Homo sapiens: one gene and its partners. The protein of the gene in region 3 purifies or fractionates together with the protein of the main gene of each other region. This does not show direct contact. Each region holds a gene or a part of one and is shown on either strand. Other genes may lie near its edges.

Region 1 (3,500 bases), about 98 Mb from region 3:
TGGCTTTCTTGTATATAAAATTAGGGGGCTGTGGTAGGTCTCAGGTTGCTTCATGCTCTGGGGTAAGTCTGAGTTAATTGCGGGCTGAGATGTTGGTAAGAGGTAGTATTAGGAACTGTTGTGAGGACCAGACCTAGCCCTCAATTAAGTGTGTTTCCTGCAGGAACACCATGCTGAGCCTTTGCCTTGAGAATGCGGAGCTGAAAGAGCAGATGGGAGAAGCAATGTCTGATGGATGGGAGATCGAGGAAGACAAGGAGAAGGGCGAGGTGATGGTTGAGACTGTGGTAACCAAAGAGGGTCTGAGTGAGAGTAGCCTTCAGGCTGAGTTCAGAAAGCTCCAGGGAAAACTGAAGAATGCCCACAATATCATCAACCTCCTCAAAGAACAACTTGTGCTGAGTAGCAAGGAAGGGAATAGTAAACTTACTCCAGAGCTCCTTGTGCATCTGACCAGCACCATTGAAAGAATAAACACAGAACTGGTTGGTTCCCCTGGGAAGCACCAACACCAAGAGGAGGGGAATGTGACTGTGAGGCCTTTCCCCAGACCCCAGAGCCTTGACCTTGGGGCTACCTTCACAGTGGATGCCCACCAAGTAAGTGTGGGCTTAGATTGAGTGAAAAACAATTGGAGAAGGGCTTGAGATGACAGTGTTTACCTTAAAACATTCTCCCATATGAATCAGGAGGTACCAAGAGAAGGGTCTCTTTGTACCACAAACAATAATAGTAATATTCTGCCTACATTCAGCCTTTAGAAAGGCTTTTATAACATAAATATTTCTTGAGTACTTAATTTTTCAGATAACACACTAGGCATTGGCATGGGGCAATAAAACCAATGGCTGCCCCTGAGATACTTAATATTGTCGGGAAAGATGGCACACAAACAGGTAATTTTAACAGGATGTGGTAACTGCTGTAACATAGGGATGCATCAGGTTATGAGGCAGCCCAGACAAGTGGTATGTAATGACATCCCTTATCACTGCCATTTTTTTGTCACAGCTCATCACAGGTGTCTGTTCCTGGGCTTCAGATGGGTTACTGGGATCCTCTTTAGGGAAGGAGCCATGCTGAAGATTCAGTGAAATGGAGAATACAGGGATTCTGAGAGAATCAATGGGACAGAATGTGAGGGGAGATGAGTGGTCTCTTTTTGACCACTGAGAAAACATTTCCTGAGAGCTCCTCTGTAGACTTGATTGGTGCTGTGCTGTGTGCTGTGGATACAGATATGAAGAAAACATTATCCCAGCGCTCCAGGAGCTCCATCTGGAAAGCAAGTCACTGCCAAATGGCATGAGAAGTGCTGTGACAGACTTGAGTAAAGTCCACAGGGTTCAGAAGGGGCGGTGGTCGTCACTGCATGGGGGTGACCTCAGACTGTCCTGATCCCTGTATTGGCCCCTTTCACAGTTGGATAACCAGTCCCAGCCTCGTGACCCTGGGCCTCAGTCAGCGTTTAGCCTACCAGGGTCCACCCAGCACCTGCGCTCCCAGCTGTCACAATGCAAACAACGCTATCAAGATCTCCAGGAGAAGCTGCTGCTATCAGAAGCCACTGTCTTTGCTCAGGCTAACGAGCTGGAGAAATACAGAGTTATGCTTAGTAAGTAACTATGACTTACTAGTAAAGAAAACTAGCCTATATGTCTTATAAGTTCTGTATGTTCTATACCGACATAACGTGGTTATTGAGCACACGAAGTGTGGCTAGTGCAACTTGGACATTTGGTTTTATTTAATTTTAGTTGATGTAGTATAAAGTGGCCATATGTGGCTGCTAACTACCTTATTGGACAGTACAGGTCTAGGGTCTTGGGACTCTAAATTAGTTCAGCTCCATTCAACATTTATTGAACCCCTGCGGATAAAGCACTTGCCAGCTTCAATGGGGCTGCTAGAGATGATAGTGTACAATCCCTGACTTACAGATATCTGGTCCCAACTAAAGCCTGGGTTATCTGAAGGGGAGATAATGGCAAATGCAGGCTCCTCCTTTGGAAAGAAATTCTGCTTCCTGGAGCTGGTGATCTCTTCTCCCACCAGTTCAGAGAAGCTTCTCTCCCACTGTGGATCTGCCTTCCGTGCCTCAAAAGGTTAGGGTATGTGCCATTGAGGCTGAGGGCATATGTGGGAAATTCAGACATTCTGTAACACCTGCTTCTCTTCCCAAGCAGGTGAATCCTTGGTGAAGCAGGACAGCAAGCAGATCCAGGTGGACCTCCAGGACCTGGGCTATGAGACTTGTGGCCGAAGCGAGAATGAGGCTGAACGGGAGGAAACCACCAGTCCTGGTAAGAGCACAGGGTGTGGGGCTCACCCCTCCCTGGAGTCAGCTGTCACATTTGGATGCTGTTGGCCAATTCCACACCTGACAAGTATTGGGGAAGAGGAGGACAGGAGGTTAATAGGAGAAATCTTACCCAAAATGAGGCTGAGTATAAGTTTGAATTTCTACAATTAGTTTTTGGCATACTGCTAATAACAATAATAATATAAAATTCTATCCAACTGATTATTATAGAAATACTAAGGCCTACTTAGAGACCAGATAAGGTTTTAGAAACATGCAAGCCATAAATTAAAAATAATTTTGTTTTGCATTATAAAAAGACTACAACTATAGGGCCACCCACCACATTGAAAACCAGAAGAGAAGAAAAACACAATCTCTCTCATTCTTGAGGCAGTGTAGTGTGGCAGTTAAGAGACAAGATCCTGGGGCCAGACTGGTTGGTTCAAATCCCAGTTTGAAAACTTTCCTATGTCCCAGTTTCTTCATGTGTTAAAATAGTAATAAAGGAACTACCTACCCCATCAGGTACTAAGGTCAATTAAATGAGTAAATTCTTATAAAATGCTTTAGAACAGTGCCTGGCATCTGGTAAAATGCCATGGATTAGTTCTCATTCTGACTACCACTGCCCTAATACACTGATGTTAACATGCTGATATATTTATTTGAAGCCTTATTTTCCTATGCCTATTTTTCATACAGTTGTAACCCAATAAACTTTTAAATTATAGTAAAATTTAAAGAGCATTAAACTTTCAGCATGCAGTAATAGCTTGTCCTACATTCTTGTGGCCATCCTAAATAGATAAGGCCATGTTAATGTCTTAAGAAACACCAGTGTGTGTGGAATGAACACAGGACATTGGAGGATTTGAATTCTGGCTCTGCCATGTGCTAGTTTGAGTGATCTAGAACAAGCTAGTTTACCACCTCTCTTTAAGTTTTGGTTTCCCAGTCAGTAAAATAGAAAGTGATGAAACCTAACTTGTAGGTATAAGGAAGATAAGAAATATTGTATTTGAATGCCTAGTACAGTGTCAGGGTTGAATAAAGTACTACTTCAACTTTTTCCCTAGTAATTATTGTCCTCATGACCAAACCTGCCTCCTCTCAAAGGCAGTGGCCACAACAGCACATCCAACTTTTATTTAGGAAGACATCTTTGTCTTTTTTCAGAGTGTGAGGAGCACAACAG
Region 2 (3,500 bases), on a different chromosome or scaffold from region 3:
CACACAATCCCCTCCTCTCACACAATCCCCTCCTCTCACAGAACCCCCTCCTCTCACGGAACCCCCTCCTCTCACAGAACCCCCTCCTCTCACGGAACCCCCTCCTCTCACGGAACCCCCTTCTCTCACGGAACCCCCTCCTCTCACAGAACCCCCTCCTCTCACGGAACCCCCTCCTCTCACGGAACCCCCTCCTCTCACAGAACCCCCCCTCACACAATCCCCTCCTCTCACGGAACCCCCTCCTCTCACAGAACCCCCTCCTCTCACGGAACCCCCTCCTCTCACACAGTCCCCTTCTCTCACAGAACCCCCTCCTCTCACAGAACCCCCTCCTCTCACAGAACCCCCTCCTCTCACACAGTCCCCTCCTCTCAGAGAACCCCCTCCTGTCACACAGTCCCCTCCTCTCACAGAACCCCCTCCTCTCACACAGAACCCCCTCCTCTCACACAGAACCCCCTCTTCTCACACAGAACCCCCTCCTCTCACGGAACCCCCTCCTCTCACAGAACCCCCTCCTCTCACACAGAACCCCCTCCTCTCACAGAACCCCCTCCTCTCACGGAACCCCCTCCTCTCACGGAACCCCCTCCTCTCACGGAACGCCCTCCTCTCACACAGAACCCCCTCCTCTCACCGAATCCCATCTCAGTCTTGAGTTTTCCCTCGACTCTGTTGCTTCCGCTCACATCTTAGTGAGTCCCCAGGGCCTCTGCGGGGCATGGAATCACACGTGCAGTGTTCCGGCATGTTCAGCCTGGTGTGTGACAGTGGGGTTCCCTGCCAGGCCAGCAGTGTGCTCTGACTCGGGGCAGGGACCAGGTTCTGTGTAGCTTTGTGCTCAAGTGCTGAGCAGAGTAGACTCTCAGCAGATGTTTGAATGAATGGGTGAACCAATGGCTGCACAAATGAACGAGCCTGACTCTCCCTCATGATTTGGTCCATAGTGTGTTTAAATACCCTCCTAGTGGGCTTTTAGCTCCTTGAAGATGGAAACAGGTTTGCATAGTAAGTTTGTTTTATTGAATGGAATGGACTTAAAGTCTTCGGACTTGGGAGAATTAGGACAGATCTGTTTCCCCGTTGGTAAAGTAAAGGTTGGGCCTGATGATCTCAGAAACTCAGGAAGAGTGATGGTCGGCCCCAGGGTCGAGAGTGAGTTACTGCCAGGTCCAGGGCTGTCCCTGTGTTCTGGCTCCCAGACCACAGTGTTTCTTCCTGAAGCCGGTGGTTGCAGCCACTTTGCCTTGCTCCTCTACGCCTTTCCTGAAGGATGAGGTGGGGCCAGTCTGCCTCTGGGAGCTCGGTCAAGTTCACCCGCCTGCCTGCCTGTCCAGTGAGTAACTAAGCCACCCACCATGGAAGCTTTCATTCAGGGTGCTTTGGAGGGGTTGGCCTGGGGCTGCAGCTCTGTGCTTCATGACCTCGGGTCTCCGGGAGCCTTGCCCCTCGGCAGCCGTTTCCAGGGCCCATCTCTGTGGGCCCACAGGGAGTGGCCTGCTAACCGGGTGCCTGCTTTGCCCACAGGCCAAGTACCTGGCCCAGATCATTGTGATGGGCGTGCAGGTGGTGGGCAGGGCCTTTGCACGGGCCTTGCGGCAGGAGTTTGCAGGTAAGCATGGGTCCGTCTCCCCTGTGGGCTGGGAGTTCCTCTCCAGGTCAGATTTTCCCCGTAGCCATGGGCACCTCAGGCCTGGCGGTTCTGAAGTGTGCGTGGCCTGAGGCACTTCCCATGGTGGGGGGTGATGCCAGACCGGGGCATTCTTCAGTGGTACCTGGTTAGCAAGAGCATCCAGGGCAGGAGCTGGCACACTGGCCCATCTGGATACCTGATTTTGTAAACTTGTTTTTTCTTTTTTTGGAGATGGAGTCTCACTCTGTCGCCCAGGCTGGAATGCAGTGGGGCAATCTTGGCTCACTGCAACCTCTGCCTCCTGGTTCAAGTGATTCTCCTCCCTCAGCCTCCTGAGTAGCTGGGAATACAAGCACCCGACACCATACCAGGCTAATTTTTGTATTTTTAGTAGAGACGGGGTTTCACTATGTTGGCCATGCTGGTCTGGAACGCCTGACTTCAGGTGATCCGCCTGCCTCAAAGTGCTGGGATTACAGGTGTGAGCCACAGCGCCCGGCCCTGGTTTTGTAAATAAATCTTTTTTTTTTGAGACGGAGTTTTCGCTCTTGTTGCCCAGGCTGGAGTGCAATAGTGCGATCTTGGCTCACTGCAACCTCTGCCTCCCGGGTTCAAGCAATTCTTCTGCCTCAGCCTCCTGAGTAGCTGGGACTACAGGCATGCGCCACCATGCCCGGCTAATTTTGTATTTTTAGTAGAGACGGGGTTTCTCCGTGTTGGTCAGGCTGGTCTTGAACTCCCAACCTCACGTGATATGCCCACCTCGGCCTCCTGAAGTACTGGGATTACAGGCGTGAGCCACCGCACCCAGCCCTTTTGTTTTCTTTTGAGACGGAGTCTCACTGTGTTGCCCAGGCTGGAGTGCAATGGTGCGATCTTGGCTCACTGCAACCTCTGCCTCCCGGGTTCAAGCAATGCTCCTGCCTCAGCCTCTCCAGTAGCTGGGACTACAGGCATGTGCCACCACACCCAGCTGATTTTTGTATTTTTAGTAATTTTGTATTTTACAGGTTTTCATCATTTTGGCCAGGATGGTCTCGATCTCTTGACCTCGTGATCTGCCCTCCTTGGCCTCCCAAAGTGCTGGGATTACAGGCGTGAGCCACTGTGCCCGGCCGACAGGCTGCTTTCAAGGCAGAGTTGAATGGTTCCAGTGTAGGCTCATTAGCCCGCAAAGCCTAAAATAGCTACTCTCTGAGCCTTTAGGAAAAGTTTAGCAGCTCCTGATTCTAGGTTCTGGGGTCACTGAAAGGGGAGAGGTCACCCAAGGCAGTGGCTTTGGTGGTCTAGGTGACAGGTGGGCAGCTGGGCCCCTGCAGAGCCCTCTCATGCCCGCAGCCCCACTATACAGTCTCCATCGTAGCCTAAAGCTCCCCAATTTGCTGTTCCCCTGGGATATGGGGGTTGGGGGACAGGGTCATCTCATGGTCTAGGTTGGGGACCAGGAGCCAGGATTAGCGGTCAGATCCTGCCCTTACCCTCCAGTGAGGCACGTCTGTCCTCACTTTCCCAGCCTCTACCCCCTAAAAAGGAAACCACTCCTGGAGAAGAGGCAGCTCCTAGCCACCTGTCCCTGTGTCTCTCATCCTGTGCTGGTGGCAGGGGTGAGCCACCAACTCGGAAGGCCCAGGGTGAAGTGTGGGCTGCTGAGGACTGAGCGATCACCCACATGTCCACACAGCCAGCCGGGCCGCAGCTGATGCCCGAGGACGCGCTGGACACCGGTCTGCAGCCGCTTCCAACCTCTCCGGCCTCAGCCTCCAGGAGGCACAGCAGATTCTCAACGTGTCCAAGCTGAGCCCTGAGGAGGTCCAGAAGGTGAGGCCACTGGGCCACCCCAAAGTTTGAGAGGGAGAGGCTGCCA
Region 3 (3,500 bases):
AATTAGCTGGGCATGGTGGTACACACTTGTAATTGCAGCTACTCGGGAGGCTGACGCAAGAGAATCACTTGAATCCGGGAGGCGGAGGTTACAGTGAGCTGAGATTGCGCCATTGTATTCAAGCCTGGGCAGCAAGAATGAAACTCCAGCTCAAAAAGAAAAAAGAAGAAGATGAGACATGGAGAGCAGGATTGCGGTTCTGACCTTTGAGCCAATTGGCCTCACAGGGGAGAAGTGTCTCCCCGAGATGAAGGATTGCTACTCTGACTGTTCACCTGTCTCAGACAAGCACAGGGTACTAAGTGGAGAAAAATCTAGCAAGTTCATAAAATAGGAATAAGTTAGTGAGAAGTCTCAACTCCAGATTACTCAAAGAAGTGGGCCAGATGTGACAAAATGCAGTAAAAGTAAGGAATGGGCAGACTGGCAAATAGGAAAATGCGTTTTCTTTCCAGAAGGAGCTACGATTATTTTAATAAGCTCATTAATACTTCACTGCAGCCTGCCAGTACTCATAGATACACTGCCTAGCTGATGGGCTCACTAGCCAGACATGAGAAGTGAGCCTGTGGCTGTAAGGCAGAGCCTGGAGGAGCTGGGAGTTGGCCCAGCAGAATGAAGGGAGGGTGCTCCAGGTAGTGGAAGCAAGCACACTGGGTGTGAAGAAGCAGCATGCTTGGGGAATTACATGGAATTTAGAACTGCTGGAACATGAGAATTAAGGGGCTGTGGTATGATATGATACTAAGGACTTTCTGTGACATGCTAAGAAATTTGGACTTTGTACTATATACTGTAGGGATTTTTTTGTTTTTGTTATTTTTATTTAAGTTCTAGGGTACATGTGCACAACATGCAGGCTCGTTACATAGGTATACATGTGCCATGCTGGCCTGCTGCACCCATCAACCCGTCATTTACATTAGGTATTTCTCTCAATGCTATCCCTACCCCTGCCCCCCACCCCACGACAGGCCCCAGTGTATGATGTTCCCCACCCTGTGTCCAAGTGTTCTCATTGTTCAGTTCCCACCTGTGAGTGAGATCATGCGGTATTTGGTTTTCTGTCCTTGTGATAGTTTGCTCAGAATGATGGTTTCCAGCTTCATCCATGTCCCTGCAAAGGACATGAACTCATCCTTTTTTATGCCTGTATAGTATTCCATGGTGTATATGTGCCACGTTTTCTTAATCCAGTCTATCAGATTTGAAGAGTGGATATGTTATAGGAGTGAGGCAGGAGGAAAGGTGACATCACATTTTTATTTTAGAATAACAATTTGTTATGTATTTGGAGATGGGGCTAGCTGGCTGCAGTATAACCAGTTAGGGCCTATTTATAGTAAATTAGATGAGTGTTGACAGGGTCTGAACTAAGATATAATTGTGCAGGGGAGAGGAGACTGATTTGAGATAATTTTAGGAAACTGAATTGATAAAACTTGGTGACTTCCAGGATAGGTAGCATGAAAGACTGCTTCCAGATTTTTTTTTTTTTGAGGCGGTTCTTGCTCTGTCACCCAGGCGGAAATGCAGTGGTGCGATCTAGGCTCACTGCAACCTCCACCTCCCGGGTTCAAGCAATTCTCCTGTCTCAGCCTCCTGAGTAGCTGGAACTACAGGCTCATGCCGCCACACCTAGCTAATTTTTATATTTTTAGTCGAGACAGGGTTTTACCAAATTGGTCAGGCTAGTCTTGAACTCCTGACCTCAGGTGATCCACCTGCCTCGGCCTCCCAAAGTGCTGGGATTACAGGCATGAGCCACCACACCCAGCCTGCTTCCAGGTTTTAACCTGAGAATTATGTGGGGAGTAATGCCATTAAATAAAAAAAAGAAGCCATCTGAGTACCATGTGCCTGGCCCCACACTAAGCTCTTTGTATTCTCTTATTTCATCCTCACAACTACCCAGGGAAGTGAGTGTTGTTATTCATCACCATTCTTTGATTGAAGAGGTTGATGCTTAGAGAGGTAAAGTGACTTGCCCAGGGTCACACAGCTAGTGGCTGCAGAGCCTGGATGTAAGTGTGGCCTGACTTAAAGCCCACACTCTAGACCACTCTGCTGTTCAGCCATTTGCTCAGTTTTGTCTCAGAGTCTTCCCTCTTTTGAGCACAACAGAAAGATGTTAGAAGTGGGACCCAGGCAGGCTGAACTAGAGGCTATACTTTGTTTTTTATTTTTATTTTTTTGAGATGGGGGTCTCACTTTGTTGCCCAGGCTGGAGTAGAGTGGCACGAACACAGCTCACTGCTGCCTCAACCTCCTGGGCTCAAGGGATCTTCCAGCCTCAGCCCTGAAAGTAGCTGGGACTATAGACTGGTGCTATCACATCTGGCTAATTTTTGTATTTTTTGTAGAGACAGGGTTTTGCCCTGTTGCCCAGGCTGGTCTCTAGCTCTTGAGCTCAAGTGATTCACTCACCTTGGCCTCCCAAAGTGTTGGGATTACAGACGTGAGCCACTGTGCCTGGCCATGTGTTTATATATATATGCCATATATATATAGTCCTTATATGTATAATATATATATATAATAAGTATATGGCCTCTATATATAGTCCGTAGCATCATATTTTATACACACACACACACACACACACTTTTTTTCTTAGAGAAATGGGGTCTCAAAGCGATCCTTCTGCCTCAGCCTCCCAAAGTGCTGAGATTACAGGTTTGAGCCACCACACCTGGCCTAGAGGCTACACATTGAAGCACGTGCTAGGAAGTGGAGGAGGAGAAATAGGTTTAGAGAGAGAGATGATGAATTCGGTTTTAGACTTGTTGAAATTGAGGTGTCTGCTAGATACCTTGCATCAAGACAGAAAATACAAATAATATACTGTTTGTATATGATGTTTTATAAGTAAGTGAGAAAATCAGGGGGAAGAGAAAATAAAAGGAAAATGTAGGCAAAGTGAAATTAGTTTTATGTGTGACTCATGCTACATGTCCTGTGCTCTCACTGGTCCTGACCTTTCTAACAAAAAACAGAGGGAAATCCTATCAGTGAGCAACTCTAGACATAGAGGTTGGAGGTCACAGCACAGATTTTATTGAAGTTGGGAGAGTAGGTGAGATTTCCTGGGAGAATGTCTGGGGCAGTGATTCTCCATCTTTGAAGTACACAAGAATCACCTGTGAGGCTTATTTACAATGCAAGTTACTGGAGTCTACCTCAGAAAGCCTGATTCTGGGGGTCTGGAGTGGGAGTGAGTGACCAGCATGCAACCCAGGTGATTCTAAAGCAGGTGGACTCATGGCCAACTTGAGAAATTTGGGGGTGAAATAACTTAAGAACAAGGCCGAGAAAGCTCCAAATGAGTTTTAAAATGGATGTGTGCAAACCCTAAGGATCAACCAGGATAATCCACTGGGTGCAGAAAGCATATGGAGCTTCAACTTCTGTTTTAATCTCAACTTTAGTTCTATTTAAATATGTTTAAAATGTGTGTTTTATTCATTTGGTAGGCAATTTAAGTGATTTATAAGTAAATT
Region 4 (3,500 bases), on a different chromosome or scaffold from region 3:
TGACACCTCACCTTTAAATATTTTCACATGCATCACCTAACAATAAAGACATTCTCCTAAATAACCAAAATAACATTCTATCACATCTGAGAAAATAACCAATTCCCTAATACAATCTAATACCTGGTACATTCCCTTAATTTATACCCCAATATCCTTTATAGCTGTTTTCTAACCAGAATTCAATTATACCTTGGCCTTTTTTTTGATGTGCTTTAGCAAAGGTTGGACTGAGTGGGGACCTGGCTGAGAAAGTGCACCAAATGAGTACTTTTTCAGAGGTGGGCGATGGAACTGCCGGAGTTTGATGGGCCCCATGTGGGTGGGAAAGAAGGGCTGCCGTAATTCCACAGCAGGAATTGAATGCTAAAACAGGAAATAGAAGGGTTAAAATTAGCTAATTCCATCCTAAGCAAGATTTTCCCATATCCTCCGTCAGAACAAAGCCATGGGGTTCTCCTCTATCACAGAAAAGACACTATTTGTACCTGGATAATATTCCCTCCAAAGGTGCCTCGAAGACCCTGTTGCTTGGGATAATAATACTCATCATTGGAGAGATTCCATGGATCTTTCACTTCTGGCTGAGACATGTTCTAATGATAGATAATCAAACAAATCTCGGTCAGACTATCCTTCTCTATTACCTTTCTTTGTTCTTCTAAACACCAAGCCCCTTTTTTCTTCACACACCTGCTGTGGTTCCTCCTTGATGACTCCTGTTTTCCCTAAGAGAATTCGACTCTTCTTCAGAGATGATTCCTTCTTACTCTCCTTGGAGGGGGAGTTAGAGGTGGCCTCTTCCTTCTCATCAGGAATTTCTGAGAATAAAACAAAAATCACTTGAGTTGCTCTCCCTGAAGATTCACCTTTCCTACAGACAAGTATCCAGTTTTCTTCTTTAAGGTGACGGATGTTCCAGTGAAGGTCTTAACTAGACCTTTCATCCCACCCCCCCCCAGGTAACTTCTAGTCCACGATTTACTAACTGAACTACACCTGTATCTTTTCATCCCATCCCAAATCACTTCTAGTACATGATTCACTAAGTGAACTACACGCTTGACATCTCAAAGGTACTACTTTCCGACAGTCCTACATGAGTTTTCCCTAGGGAATACACAAATAATAAAAACTAACTGCCACAATTTTGCTCTCTCAAACTGCTACCTAGAAGTTTCGAGTCCATGATTCACTAACGGAACAAACTATGCTCTTGACATCTCAAAGTTGCAACTTTCCAACATTCCTACGTGAGTGTTCCCTAAGCATATACACAAATAATATAAACTAACAGCCAAAACTTCGCTCTCTCAAGCCGCTACCTACAGGTTTCTAGTCCTAATCATCTCCAACCCTTCTGATTTCCTCCTGCCCGTTGACATTAACAGCAAGTTTTCAAAGGAGAAGAAACACTGGCCTCTGCCAGTAATATACCCAAAATGAGGTTCTCATCATTGGGATCAAGTGTCAAAACAGGAGGTTCCAACAGCCGGGGCATGGCCTGAGCATCCCAAATGATATTGTCCTCCCAGCGTCCATATACCAGATCCTCATTGTCAATGGGAAAAATGGAGTACCAAGGTTTGTCATCATCAAGAGTGGCTGCAAAACCTAGTCAAAGTGCAAGGAGGAAATAGTAACAGAGAAAACATTTATGCCCCTTTCAATCAAGATTCTGGCAAAGATAAAAAGAGTTACTCATGTTAGTAGAGCGAGTTAGTGGAGTTATTCATGTGTCCACTGAAAAGGAACCTACACAGTGTATTTCTCACTTTAAAATAATGTTGCAGGCTCAGCACGGTGGCTCACACCTGTAATCACAGCATTTTGGGAGGCCGAGGCAGGTGGATCACTTCAGGTCAGGAGTTCAAGACCAACCTGACCAACATTGAGAAGCCCCATCTTTACAAAAAATACAAAAATTAGCTGGGTGTGGTGGCACATGCCTGTAATCCCAGCTACTCAGGAGGCTGAGGCAGGAGAATCACCTGAGCCCAGGAGGCAGAGATTGCAGTGAGCTGAGATCGTGCCATTGCACTCCAACCTGGGCAACAAGAGTGAAATTCTGTCTCAAAAAATAAATAAATAAAAATAATGTTGCAGTCAAAAATGTCCACTGCAATACTGTTTATAATAGTTGAAATTTAAATAGCCTAAATGTTTAAGAAGGAATTGGTTAAATTATGACAATAAATGATATGGTAAAGTATGCTAACAATAAATGGTAATAAATTGTATTAACAAATGCAACATGTTATCGGTAAATTATGAAACATTCGTAATAGTAATATATAACCCATAAAGTGGGCAGAATGGAAGGGAAAAAACCTATTTCTTAGGTTTTAAAAATCAGACATTTTTGTATCCGGGTGTGGTGGCTCACGCCTGTAATCCCAGCATTTTGGGAGACCAAGGCAGGCAGATCACTTGAGGTCAGGAGTTCAAGACCAGCCTGGCCAACCTGGTGAAACCCCGTCTCTACTAAAAATACAAAAATTAGCTGGGCACAGCGGTGCACGCCTATAATCCCAGCTACTCGGGAGGCTGAAGCACAAGAATCACTTCAACCTGGGAGGCAGATGTTGCAGTGAGCCAAGATCGCGCCAACACATTCCACCCTGGGCGACAGAGACTCTTGTCTCAAAAAAGAAAAAATTTTGTTTTTCCTCCAAAATATAAAAGTAATCCAGCTTTCTATGTTTATATAGTCTGCTTTTTTTCATTTACACTAATAGGATATCATATATGTTGTTTCATATCTTCTTTATTTCCATTTAAAATGAGTTTCTCAAGCCAGACGTGGTGGCATGCCCCTGAAGTCTTGGCTACTCGGGAGGCTGAGGCAGGAGGATCACCTGAGCCCAGGAGTCCAGCCTGACCAACAATAGCAAGACTCTACCTCTACAAAAAATAATAATTTAATTAAAATAAAATGAACGAGTTTCCCATGTCATTAAACATTTTTATAAAGAACTCTAAATGACACAAAAATATTTATGTGGCTGGGTGGGGTGGCTCTTGCTTGTAATCTCAGCACTTTGGGAGACCGAGGCAGGAAGATCACTTGAGTCTAGGAGTTTGAAACCAGTCTGGGCAACAAAGTGAGGCCCTGTCTCAACAATGAAAAATAAAAAATGAAAGAGAGAAAAATATTTAGTAAGTGAAAAGCACAGTATGCAAAACTGTACATACGGAAATGAGCTCAACTACATACACACACAGAACACTGAAAATACACCAAAACTTAACAGTTGATAATCTCCAGATAGATTACCAGTGACTTTAACACTATACTGTATTTTCAAAGTTTTTTACATTAATCATGGCATACCTTAAAAAAAAAAACCTATTTAAGGAGAAAAATAGGAAACTAGAATTCTAAATACAAAGGGACTTGGGAACAAAAATATACTATAAAGTACTGTTATAGTTCAGAAAGATCTTTAACTTCAGGCCAGGCGTGGTGGCTCATGCCTGTAATCCCAGCACTTTGGGAG
Region 5 (3,500 bases), on a different chromosome or scaffold from region 3:
TCTGCTAACTGAAACAAGATGTCAACTTCCATGGGTGTAACCTGACCAAATTTCTGAGCTGCCAGAACAAACTCCTCTGTATGGAAGAAAAGTTAAAAGGGAAAGATTCAAGAAGAAATAGCCACTAAATTCAGCATTAACTCAAGGCACTGGAATGAGTGAACATCACAAAACTTTATTATTATCATCAGTTGTAGAATTCAAGTCAATCCAAATAAGGTAAGAATTTTTGCAGTTCTTGCATCCATTTGGAAAGCGTGTGCAGAATATGTTCTTGAATATACAGTTTAAAAGCTTGGGGTCATCTGATGTTATTCAAATTGCCAATCAGAGAAAATAAGGAATCATATATGAAACTTCATATGCATAGGTCCCAGGAGGGGAAGTTATATTAATCTAATTAACTGGTTAAATTAGGATTATTAATTATATTAATTTAGGTGGTTATATTAATGAAGGTGTGGAATTCCTAAGGGAATTCTGATTTTTTTTTTTTTTTTTTTTGAGACAGAGTCTTGCTCTGTTGCCCAGGCTGGAGTGCAGTGGTGCAATCTCGGTTCACTACAACCTCCGACTCTTGGGTTCAAGCGATTCCCCTGCCTCAGCCTCCCAAGGAGCTGGAACTACAGGTGTGTGCCACCATGCCCTGCTAATTTTTTTATATATACATTTTTAGTAGAGACGGGGTTTCACCGTGTTAGCCAGGATCGTCTCAATCTCCTGACCTCATGATCTGCCCGCCTCGGCCTCCCAAAGTGCTGGGATTACAGGCATGAGCCACCGCACCGGCTCTGATTTTTTTTCTTAATCCCATTACAATGCTGATAATATCCTGTCCCAAGCCTACAGACCAACTTACACTGTCACCAATGCAACTTTATGGAATTCCTCATATACACCTGAAGGCTTCCTTAGAGGTTGCCAATTTAGCTCAAGCTGTAGCAAGATTTGAAAATATTTAAGAAACTTTACATGTTTTCCTTATTCAAAGGGTGTCTTCAGTTTATTTATTTATTTATTTATTTATTTTTGAGATGGCATTTTGCTCTTGTTGCCCAGGCTGGAGTGCAGTGGCGTGATCTCGGCTCACTGCAACCTTCGCCTCCCAGGTTCAAGCGATTCTTCTGCCTCAGCCTCCCAAGTAGCTGGGATTACAGGTGCCCACCACCACACCCGACTAATGTTTGTATTTTTAGTAGAGACAGGGTTTCACCCTCTTGGCCAGGCTGGTCTCGAACTCCTGATCTCAGGTGATCCACCCACCTCGGCCTCCCAAACTGCTGGGATTTCAGGTGTGAGTCACCAAGCTGGGCCCAGTTTGTTTAAAACTTGGTGAAGATTGTTTTGTTTGCTTTTGTTTGTCTGATCAAAGGATGAAAAACACACGTTATCATATAGTTAATATGTGTCAATGGGATAGAAAAATAATAAAGTACTAGTTGCCTTCTTCACCCTAATAATAATACACCACAATACTTGCAGGCTAGAATTCAGATATATTCTCACTCACCCTTAGTCACTTCAACATCTTTCCTGGTGCCAGCCAGAGTGCTATAGATCTTTCTAATGAGTTCCATGTTGTTAAGGAGCGAATTAAATCCATTAAAATAGGAGAAACTAACTTGATGGGATGTGGTACCTCCAGCAGCCTCAAATAAATTGAAAACAAGAGAGAAGAAAAATATACAAAAGATTTATAGATGATTCAGAAGTACATACATCTAAAACTAGTTTGAAAGTAATCAAAAATGCATGTACAAGAAGAAATGACTATAAGTATTTTTCTTTTGCATTAAAAAAAAGCTATAAATGATTTTTAGAAGCAACTGCAACTAATCATGACCAGAACTTGTACTCTCCATACACAACTCCTAGAAAACTAAATAAATACATGTGTAGGATTATAACAGGACTAGTAGTAATTTAGAGTTCAAATTTCAATTGGAAATGTTTTATAAGTTGGTTTATTTCATCTAATGAGCAAATCTTAAAGGCTTAAACATGCAAAAACTATAAGTACATATGCACACATGTGTGTGCTTATGCATGAAAAACTGTATTGTATCAATGCAAACATACTATGAAAAGTAGTCAATGTAACATTAATATCAAGACTTGTCAAGTTACTTATAACCAGTAATAAATAATCATTTAGGTACAGACTTTACATTGGTGGGATTTCTAGCAAACAAGCATATTATGGTAAAATTATGAGATGCCATATACTTTCATGGGGGGTTAAGACTAGTAAAAATTCTGATAATCAGAATTTTTAAGAAACCATATTTCTTCACAGGGGACAAGGGAAACAGACAGAATGTCCATTATGAATGAGACTTCAGTTTGGAGTTTCAAATTCTATCCTTCCCTAGCAAGGCAAAATATTTTTATTAGGAAAGCACTTCTTTACAAGGTAACAACCACATAAATCTTCACTTAGTAATCATTTAAAATAGCTGACATGAAAGTTTAGTATGGAGTAGAGAAGGGGGCGCCCAAGAAAAGGAGTTAGATTAACACAGTGCCAGAATGGAAGAGGCCTCGTTGGAATACCATGTCTCTAGAACTAAGGACTTGGGGGAAGAAAGGAAACTGAAAGGCTACTCTGAGTTCCTGCCTATGGTAAGCACTGTGGGAAACCCAGATGATGGTGAAAACAGTATTCTCCCTGGGATTAACAAAAGGAGAGTTACCACGGGCTATTGGTCCTAAAACTGAGTTATTACCAAAATCACCCAGAAGCTTTACAAAATTAGATTCTAAGACCTCATCGCCTATAGATGGTGTATGATAGGCCTAGAAGAGATCTCAGAATCTGTAGTTTTAATAGTTTTTAGTGGTGATTCTGGTGCTCCACGAGCAGGTCTTAAGAACCACCACCACAGAATGTTGCAGGACATCCCCAGGGCCCATGAGGGAAGGACAGCAGCTGACACCTGGAGGAGGGAGGCTCCATGAAACACAACTGCAGGGCTCTGCTGTCACATGTAACTCTGTGGCCTCGACACATACACGGTGAAAGGGAATCTAAGGTTTGGAGTTTCTGTTGTGCTAACTACTCTAACAAATGATATACATGTGCACTATTTTTTTTTTTTTTTTGCCTTAGAGCATCTAAGAAGATTAGCAAAAATCAGCCCTTGATATACTTCAAAATCTAAAACAAAATTAACATGAGATCACAAATCTGTTTTTCCTTTTATCTTTAAAAAGCTAATGTATTTCTCGAAGATATTCCGTATTACCCAGACAACAAATTAACCTACCCACTAAAACTAGCCAAAACACACTCTTTGTTTGAGTTTAGTAATGTATGTGATCACATTAAAATGTTAGTGTTTGCAACAGAAAAAAAACACTACATAACTTATAAGAATTGTTTTTATAATTCCTTATTTACTGAGTTAAACCACTTCATTAGGGCAAGTTACAACTTACAGCTACTAGACATTCTTCTACAAAAGGAGTCAAGACATGGGGGCGGATGGTGACCATGATGT
Region 6 (3,500 bases), on a different chromosome or scaffold from region 3:
GGGCTATAAATGCTAAACTTCTGTCTTTGAGGCTGGAGGATTTGAGCTCTCAACAGATTCGGACTAAATACGTAGCTCTTATGAATGTATTCCTATACACATGTAGGCCGGGAAAGTTCTGATACTTACCTACCTAAAGAGAGCTCTGGCCATATATTTGACAGCAGGTTAGGAGTTAGAAGACCACTGATATACCATGATAATATTAGAAGGAAAGGACAATAAATAATTATATGTCTGTAATTGCAGTATTAATCATAGTGTTTTAATATCTGTATTTTATTCTATAGCTCAAAAGCATTTTCATATATAGTATTCTATTTGATCTTCACAATAACCCTGTGATGTAGGTAGTACCCTTATTTTACAGTTAAGAAAATAGAGGCCAAAAGACATTAAATGACCTATGTAATCTTTCTTGTTTTATTACCTGGACTTTAGCAATAGCTTCCTGATTAAAATCCTTGTTTTAGTCTCTTTCACCTCCCTTCTGTCCTCTACATTGCCACCCGTGTTACCTTTTTTTCCGGAAATACAGACTTAATTGTACTCATTTTCTTAAAAATTGTCAATGGCTATTCATTGTTTCAGTCATTTTATTTAAAACTTTATTGAGGTATAATTAACACCAAAAAACTGCATATTGTTTTGAAGTATCATTGACATTGATTTTTTTTTTTTTTTTGAGATGGAGTCTCTATCACCTAGGCTGGAGTACAGTGGTGCGATCTCAGCTCACTGCAATCTCCGCCTCGAGGGCTCAAGTGATTCTCCTGCCATAGCGTCCAGAGTAGCTGGGAGTACAGGTGTGAGCCACCAATCCCTGCGAATTTTTATATTTTTAGTGGAGACAGGGTTTTACCCTGTTGGCGAGGCTGGTCTTGAACTGCTGACCTCAAATGATCCATCCTCCTCGGCCTCCCAAAGTGCTGGGATTATAGGAGTGAGTCACCGCACCCAGCCAATAAACTTTGACGGATGTGTACGCAGATTAAGCTGTCACTGTAATCAGGATACAGCGCATACCCATCACCCCTGAAAGTTTCTTTATGGTCCTTGGTAGTCTCTTCCTCTTGCCTCTCCATTCCTCCATCCCCTCCAGGCAACCACTGATCTGCTTTCTGTCACTACAGATTAGTATGTATTCTAGAGTTTTATATGAATGTGCTCATATGCTTTTTTTGGTCTGGCTCTTTTATACAGCATAATTATTTTGAGATTCATCCATGTTGTGTATATCAGTGGCTTTTTTTTTTTTTTTTATTGCTGAATGGTATTCCATTATATGTATATACCACAATTTATTTTTTACCTGTTGATGAATGTTGGAGTTGTTTAAGGCTTATTACAGATAAAGCTGTTGTGAACTTTTGTATACAAGTGTGTATGGACATATACTTTGTTTTTCCTTGGGTGAATACCTAGAGTGGTGTGTTAGTCCATTCTCATACTGCTATAAGGAAATACCTGAGACTGGGTAATTTATGAAGGAAAGAGGTTTAATTGACTCTCAGTTCAGTATGGCTGGGGAGGCCTCAGGAGACTTACAATCATGGCAGAAGGGGAAGGGGAAGCAGGCACCTTATTCACACGGTGGCAGGAAGGAGAAGTGCGAGCAGGGGAAATGCCAGACGCTTATAAAACTATCAGATCTCATGAGACTCACTCATTATCATGAGAACAGCATGGGGGAAACCACCCCCGTGATTCACTTACCTCCACCTAGTCTTGCCCTTGATACGTGGGGATTATGGGGATTGCAATTCAAGGTCAGATTTAGGAGGGGACACAGAGCCAGACCATATATCAAGTGGCATGGCTGGATCATACGGTAGGTGTATGCTTAACTTTTTAAGAAACTTTCAATTTGTTTTCCTAAGCAGTTTTTTACCATTTTACATAACCACAAGCAGTGTATGAGACATAATTCCAGGTCCAATTTCTCCTCAACCTCACCAACACTTAGTATGGTCAGTCTTCTTAATTTTAGCCATGCTAATAAGTATGTAATGATAGCTCATTGTGATTATAATTTGGACTTCCTTAATTCCTAATGATGAGCATCTTTTCATGTGTTTATTTGTACTCTGTGTATCTTTTTTGGTGAAGTACCTGTTTGAATCTTCTGCCTGCTTTTTAATTGTGTTGTTTTCTTACATTTTCTTCTAAAAGTTTTATAATTTTAGGTTTTACATATAAGTCTGTGATCCATTTTGAGTTGATTTTTGTATAGTATATGGTGCAAGGATGGATGAAGTTTATTTTTTTGCTTATGGATATTTAATTGTTCAAGTTCATTTGTTGAAAAGACGATCCTTTCTCCACTAATTGCTTTTGTGTCTTTGTCAAAAATCAGTTGTCCACATACTTTATAGTTTGAAATCTTTTCTTTTTAAAGATAGACATCAAGCACTATAGAATTTTCCCTAAATATTTATGCTTTACCAGTATTCCACAATTTCTGATATGCTGTGTTTACAATTTTTTTTGAGACAGAGTCTCGCTCTGTATTTTTTGTAGAGATGGGGTTTTGCCATGTTGGCCAGGCTGGTCTTGAACTCCTGGCCTCAAGTGATCCCCCTGCCCCGGCCTCCCAAAGTGCTGGGATTACAGGCGTGAGCCACCATGCCCGCAGAAGTTCAGAATACTTTCTAATATTCTTTACTTTTTCTTTGGTTTATAGGTAAGTTTCAAATATTTGGGAATGTTTCAGTTATCTTTCTCTTGCTGTGGTTGGTGAACACTGAATCCTTTTAAATGTGTTGAGATTTGTTTTATAGCCCAGAATATGGTTTTAAGTAAACCTGAAATATTTACCATGTTGACTTAAAAAGCATGTGTGTTCTGCTGTTGCTGGGTGGAATATCTTATTCTCAATGTCAGATCAGGTTGGTTGAGAGTATTGTTCAGATCTACTTTCTATTCTACAATTATTGATAAATTATGGTTAAACAAATTTTTTTAAAAAGAAATAAAACCTGTGTTTTAAATGAACTCTTAGGGTGAAAGTCTCAGTTTTAAAATTGAGAAAACAGCGCTACTGTTTGAAGGAGGTTATTGGTGCAGGGCAAAGTCATGTTCTTTGGCCTCCTTTTGCTCCCTTACAAGAGGTGCCCTTGAGGCACCACTCAGAACTGAGCTCTCCACTGACAATTGAGGTCCCTGGCGCAAAGTCTGGTGAGTTTATATCTCAGTCTTGTCGCCTATCGTTCTGTAACCATGAATTCAGTGTGCGAGGACCAGAGACCTCCAGATACTTCCTGCACTTTCACGTGTCCATGGGCACTATTCATGCCGCTCTGCTTAGAATGGCTTCCAGCTGGCAAAATCCTTCTCATTGTTTATGGCCCGGCTTCAATGTCACCTCCTCTGTGATGCCACCCCAGACACTCCAGTCAGAATTAACCTGTCTTGTTTTGGTGTTCCCACAGAATTGCTTCACTCTGTTACATGTGTCCTCTGATGGATTTAAATTCCTTCTCATCAAAGCATAATGTCAC
Region 7 (2,488 bases), on a different chromosome or scaffold from region 3:
ATATAAAGTTCTGCTCTTAAAGAGTTGATCTAAGAGTATGGCTAAACATCTATATATGCAATCTATTAAAAGAACTTAATTCGGCTATTATGTCTTGATTTGATTGCAGTTTTTTCCTAATTATAACAAATTTTTCCTCATTGGCCTGTTTTTAATCCTGTGCCTAGAAGGAGTACAAAATGCACACTTTACAAAATTGATATTTAACACTTACCCACTCCCCTTTCCCCATCTCTTCTACCGCTCTTGTTGATCGTGGTATCTGATCTTGACTAGATAGGCTGAAGGCACATGGTTCCCTCCAAAAACCACTATTGATACCACTACAAAAACAAGCCAGCAAAAAGATACTGTAGAGAGGTTGGCTTGCTTCCCTCTCTTCCTAACTGCATGTTGAAAAATAAGCCGTTATTGATCTTAAACATCGGTCAGATGAGTCATACATTGGGTTATTTTTTATATACATGTATACACAAAATATTTCAAATTGAAAGCAACATCTTAATGGATTCAAAACTATTACAAGCTGTTGTCTAAAACAGGTGAGAAAAAAATTTATAACTGTAAAAACAAATGCACATATTGATATTTAAAATGCGTAATTAAGAAAACCCATTGTTGTTGTGTTTTTCTTGTATACCAATAATTAAGCCACTACTGTTGGCACTGTTTGGTTTTCTATTTTAACACTGAAGGAGTGAAAGTATTTCCTATATTTATGAATTTACTACTAAAATCTTGGCAAAAAAAGAAAAAAATTGTCTAACGTGTGTGGGTGAAAACTGTTAATCAAGTGTTTCTACTCCCCCCCGAAAATCCCCTGAAAGTTGGACACCAACTGTATACCCTAGGTTGCTTAAAGGGATTTCACTATTATATAAAGTCAATAAAAATGAAGTAGTTGTATATATGCAACATTGTGTACAGAGGGGAAATAATGAATAGTATTAAAGAAACATTCTCGTCTTCCTTTACCTTTAATCCCCTAATACCTAGTCTACTTTTTAAATTTTCAGACTTCACTGCTTTTTGAATTCATAATTCTAATTTTCACATTATTGTTAATGGAAAATCATATCTAATAAAGGTTTTAGTTATTCCCATGCACAGTATGAAAATTCTCATTTGCTGAGGTTTTGTTTCAAGAAAATGTATTGGCATGTCTTTGAGAACATGTTTTATTGTCTCCTGTGTCATATAATCCAAACTAATCTCCGTTTACAGACTTTAACTTGAAATTAGACCTTATAATTAAACTATTTAAATAGTGTTCAAATGATAGTTTCTAATGCATCAAATATATACCTCAGTTTTCATGATTTCCTTTAACATTATAATTTGGTATAGATCAAGAATCTTAACATGTATCAGTTTCTAGATGAGGCTGCAGGATTTTTGGAAAACTTTTTGAATGTATTTACAATATTCTCTTGTAATTAGCTACATAGGGACTTGTCTTTTTTTCTTTTTACATACAGCTTTTCCTACAGTTTTATTACCCTGTAATTTTTTTTTAGTTGTAGAAGTTAATTCTGATTTTGTGTGGATTTCAGTATTTGTCTTTGTTAATGGCACATATTAGCATAAATCACTTTTGTAAATGTAAGCTTTCTTTTTTTTTCTTGAAAAAGCCTTTCTATTTATCAGTATTAAATAAAGGAAGTTAATCTGTTTCTCTGCAGGTAATAAAATAGTGACACACTGTATTAAGATAGTGACTGCTATACTCAACTCTGGAAGAGACTAGAGTATAGAGCATGAGTGGCAAAACCACAGCCCTTGGGCCATATGCTGCTATTCAGTCCCAGATGTAGCCCCTGAAGCAAGCATAAAGAAAAATGAATTAAAAATTAAATTAATATGGAAAGTTAAAAAATGGATTACATTAGTATGACTAAACCATGTCTTTGGCAAAGATCTAACACAATGTCTTAAGTATAATAGGTAGTCTCTGTTTGTAAAATAAATGACTTAAATTTAAAACATCAGTTATAAAACTGTCAGTTCTGTTCTTTGTAATTTAAATTTTGGTAAAGATTTTCTGTGACCATTTATCAGTGCCTACTGAATTCTAGCTTTTATCCTTGGTGAGTTGGCCATTCTTGCAATAGCCACTTCACACTTTGGCTCATGGTAAACAAAGGTTACCTGGAAAGTGCTCTTGGAGATAGTACTGGCATCTCTCAATTGGGGGAGTTACCTAAATCAGACCTGCAAATTAGAGAAGGCTAGGATAATAGATTCTTTAACATAAACAGTTAACATTTTAAGTTGACCTGGCAATCCAAAAACTAGCATTAGCAGAAGCAGTATGCTTCTCCAAAGGTCTTCTAGACCCAGGCTGTAACTCAGCTAACTGAAGTGATCCAATACTGTTCTAGGCCCTTCATCCTTTGTATGTAGTATTACCACTGAATAGATTTGTATGTAGTATTATGACTGCATAAAACAAACAATGGGGACAGATATATCCCTTTCCTTTAAGGAC

The links.
Region 1: the proteins of SCCPDH (region 3) and PDE4DIP purify together in Homo sapiens (affinity purification with mass spectrometry; 3 studies listed by BioGRID and IntAct, with this or other methods). This does not show direct contact.
Region 2: the proteins of SCCPDH (region 3) and PAM16 fractionate together in Homo sapiens (co-fractionation; one large-scale study listed by BioGRID). This does not show direct contact.
Region 4: the proteins of SCCPDH (region 3) and TAF1 purify together in Homo sapiens (affinity purification with mass spectrometry; 2 studies listed by BioGRID and IntAct, with this or other methods). This does not show direct contact.
Region 5: the proteins of SCCPDH (region 3) and SLC25A13 fractionate together in Homo sapiens (co-fractionation; one large-scale study listed by BioGRID). This does not show direct contact.
Region 6: the proteins of SCCPDH (region 3) and SAAL1 purify together in Homo sapiens (affinity purification with mass spectrometry; 4 studies listed by BioGRID and IntAct, with this or other methods). This does not show direct contact.
Region 7: the proteins of SCCPDH (region 3) and IPO7 purify together in Homo sapiens (co-immunoprecipitation; one large-scale study listed by IntAct). This does not show direct contact.

What each region holds. Positions count from the first base shown.
Region 1 is NC_000001.11:149,001,428-149,004,927, forward strand, and holds part of PDE4DIP (myomegalin), read left to right. Parts: intron 1-163; coding exon 164-599; intron 600-1,422; coding exon 1,423-1,615; intron 1,616-2,183; coding exon 2,184-2,303; intron 2,304-3,481; coding exon 3,482-3,500. UniProt on the Homo sapiens protein: Functions as an anchor sequestering components of the cAMP-dependent pathway to Golgi and/or centrosomes.
Region 2 is NC_000016.10:4,341,322-4,344,821, reverse strand, and holds part of PAM16 (mitochondrial import inner membrane translocase subunit TIM16), read left to right. Parts: intron 1-1,530; coding exon 1,531-1,615; intron 1,616-3,317; coding exon 3,318-3,454; intron 3,455-3,500. Other genes in the region: CORO7-PAM16 protein, read left to right, coding at 1,531-1,615, 3,318-3,454. UniProt on the Homo sapiens protein: Regulates ATP-dependent protein translocation into the mitochondrial matrix. Inhibits DNAJC19 stimulation of HSPA9/Mortalin ATPase activity.
Region 3 is NC_000001.11:246,730,909-246,734,408, forward strand, and holds part of SCCPDH (saccharopine dehydrogenase-like oxidoreductase), read left to right. Parts: intron 1-3,500.
Region 4 is NC_000023.11:71,379,857-71,383,356, reverse strand, and holds part of TAF1 (transcription initiation factor TFIID subunit 1), read right to left. Parts: intron 1,615-3,500; coding exon 1,438-1,614; intron 822-1,437; coding exon 694-821; intron 597-693; coding exon 489-596; intron 367-488; coding exon 193-366; intron 1-192. UniProt on the Homo sapiens protein: The TFIID basal transcription factor complex plays a major role in the initiation of RNA polymerase II (Pol II)-dependent transcription.
Region 5 is NC_000007.14:96,189,599-96,193,098, forward strand, and holds part of SLC25A13 (electrogenic aspartate/glutamate antiporter SLC25A13, mitochondrial), read right to left. Parts: coding exon 3,439-3,500; intron 1,650-3,438; coding exon 1,511-1,649; intron 77-1,510; coding exon 1-76. UniProt on the Homo sapiens protein: Mitochondrial electrogenic aspartate/glutamate antiporter that favors efflux of aspartate and entry of glutamate and proton within the mitochondria as part of the malate-aspartate shuttle.
Region 6 is NC_000011.10:18,099,583-18,103,082, reverse strand, and holds part of SAAL1 (protein SAAL1), read left to right. Parts: intron 1-3,500. UniProt on the Homo sapiens protein: Plays a role in promoting the proliferation of synovial fibroblasts in response to pro-inflammatory stimuli.
Region 7 is NC_000011.10:9,446,140-9,448,627, forward strand, and holds the end of IPO7 (importin-7), read left to right. Parts: 3' UTR 1-1,988; downstream 1,989-2,488. UniProt on the Homo sapiens protein: Functions in nuclear protein import, either by acting as autonomous nuclear transport receptor or as an adapter-like protein in association with the importin-beta subunit KPNB1.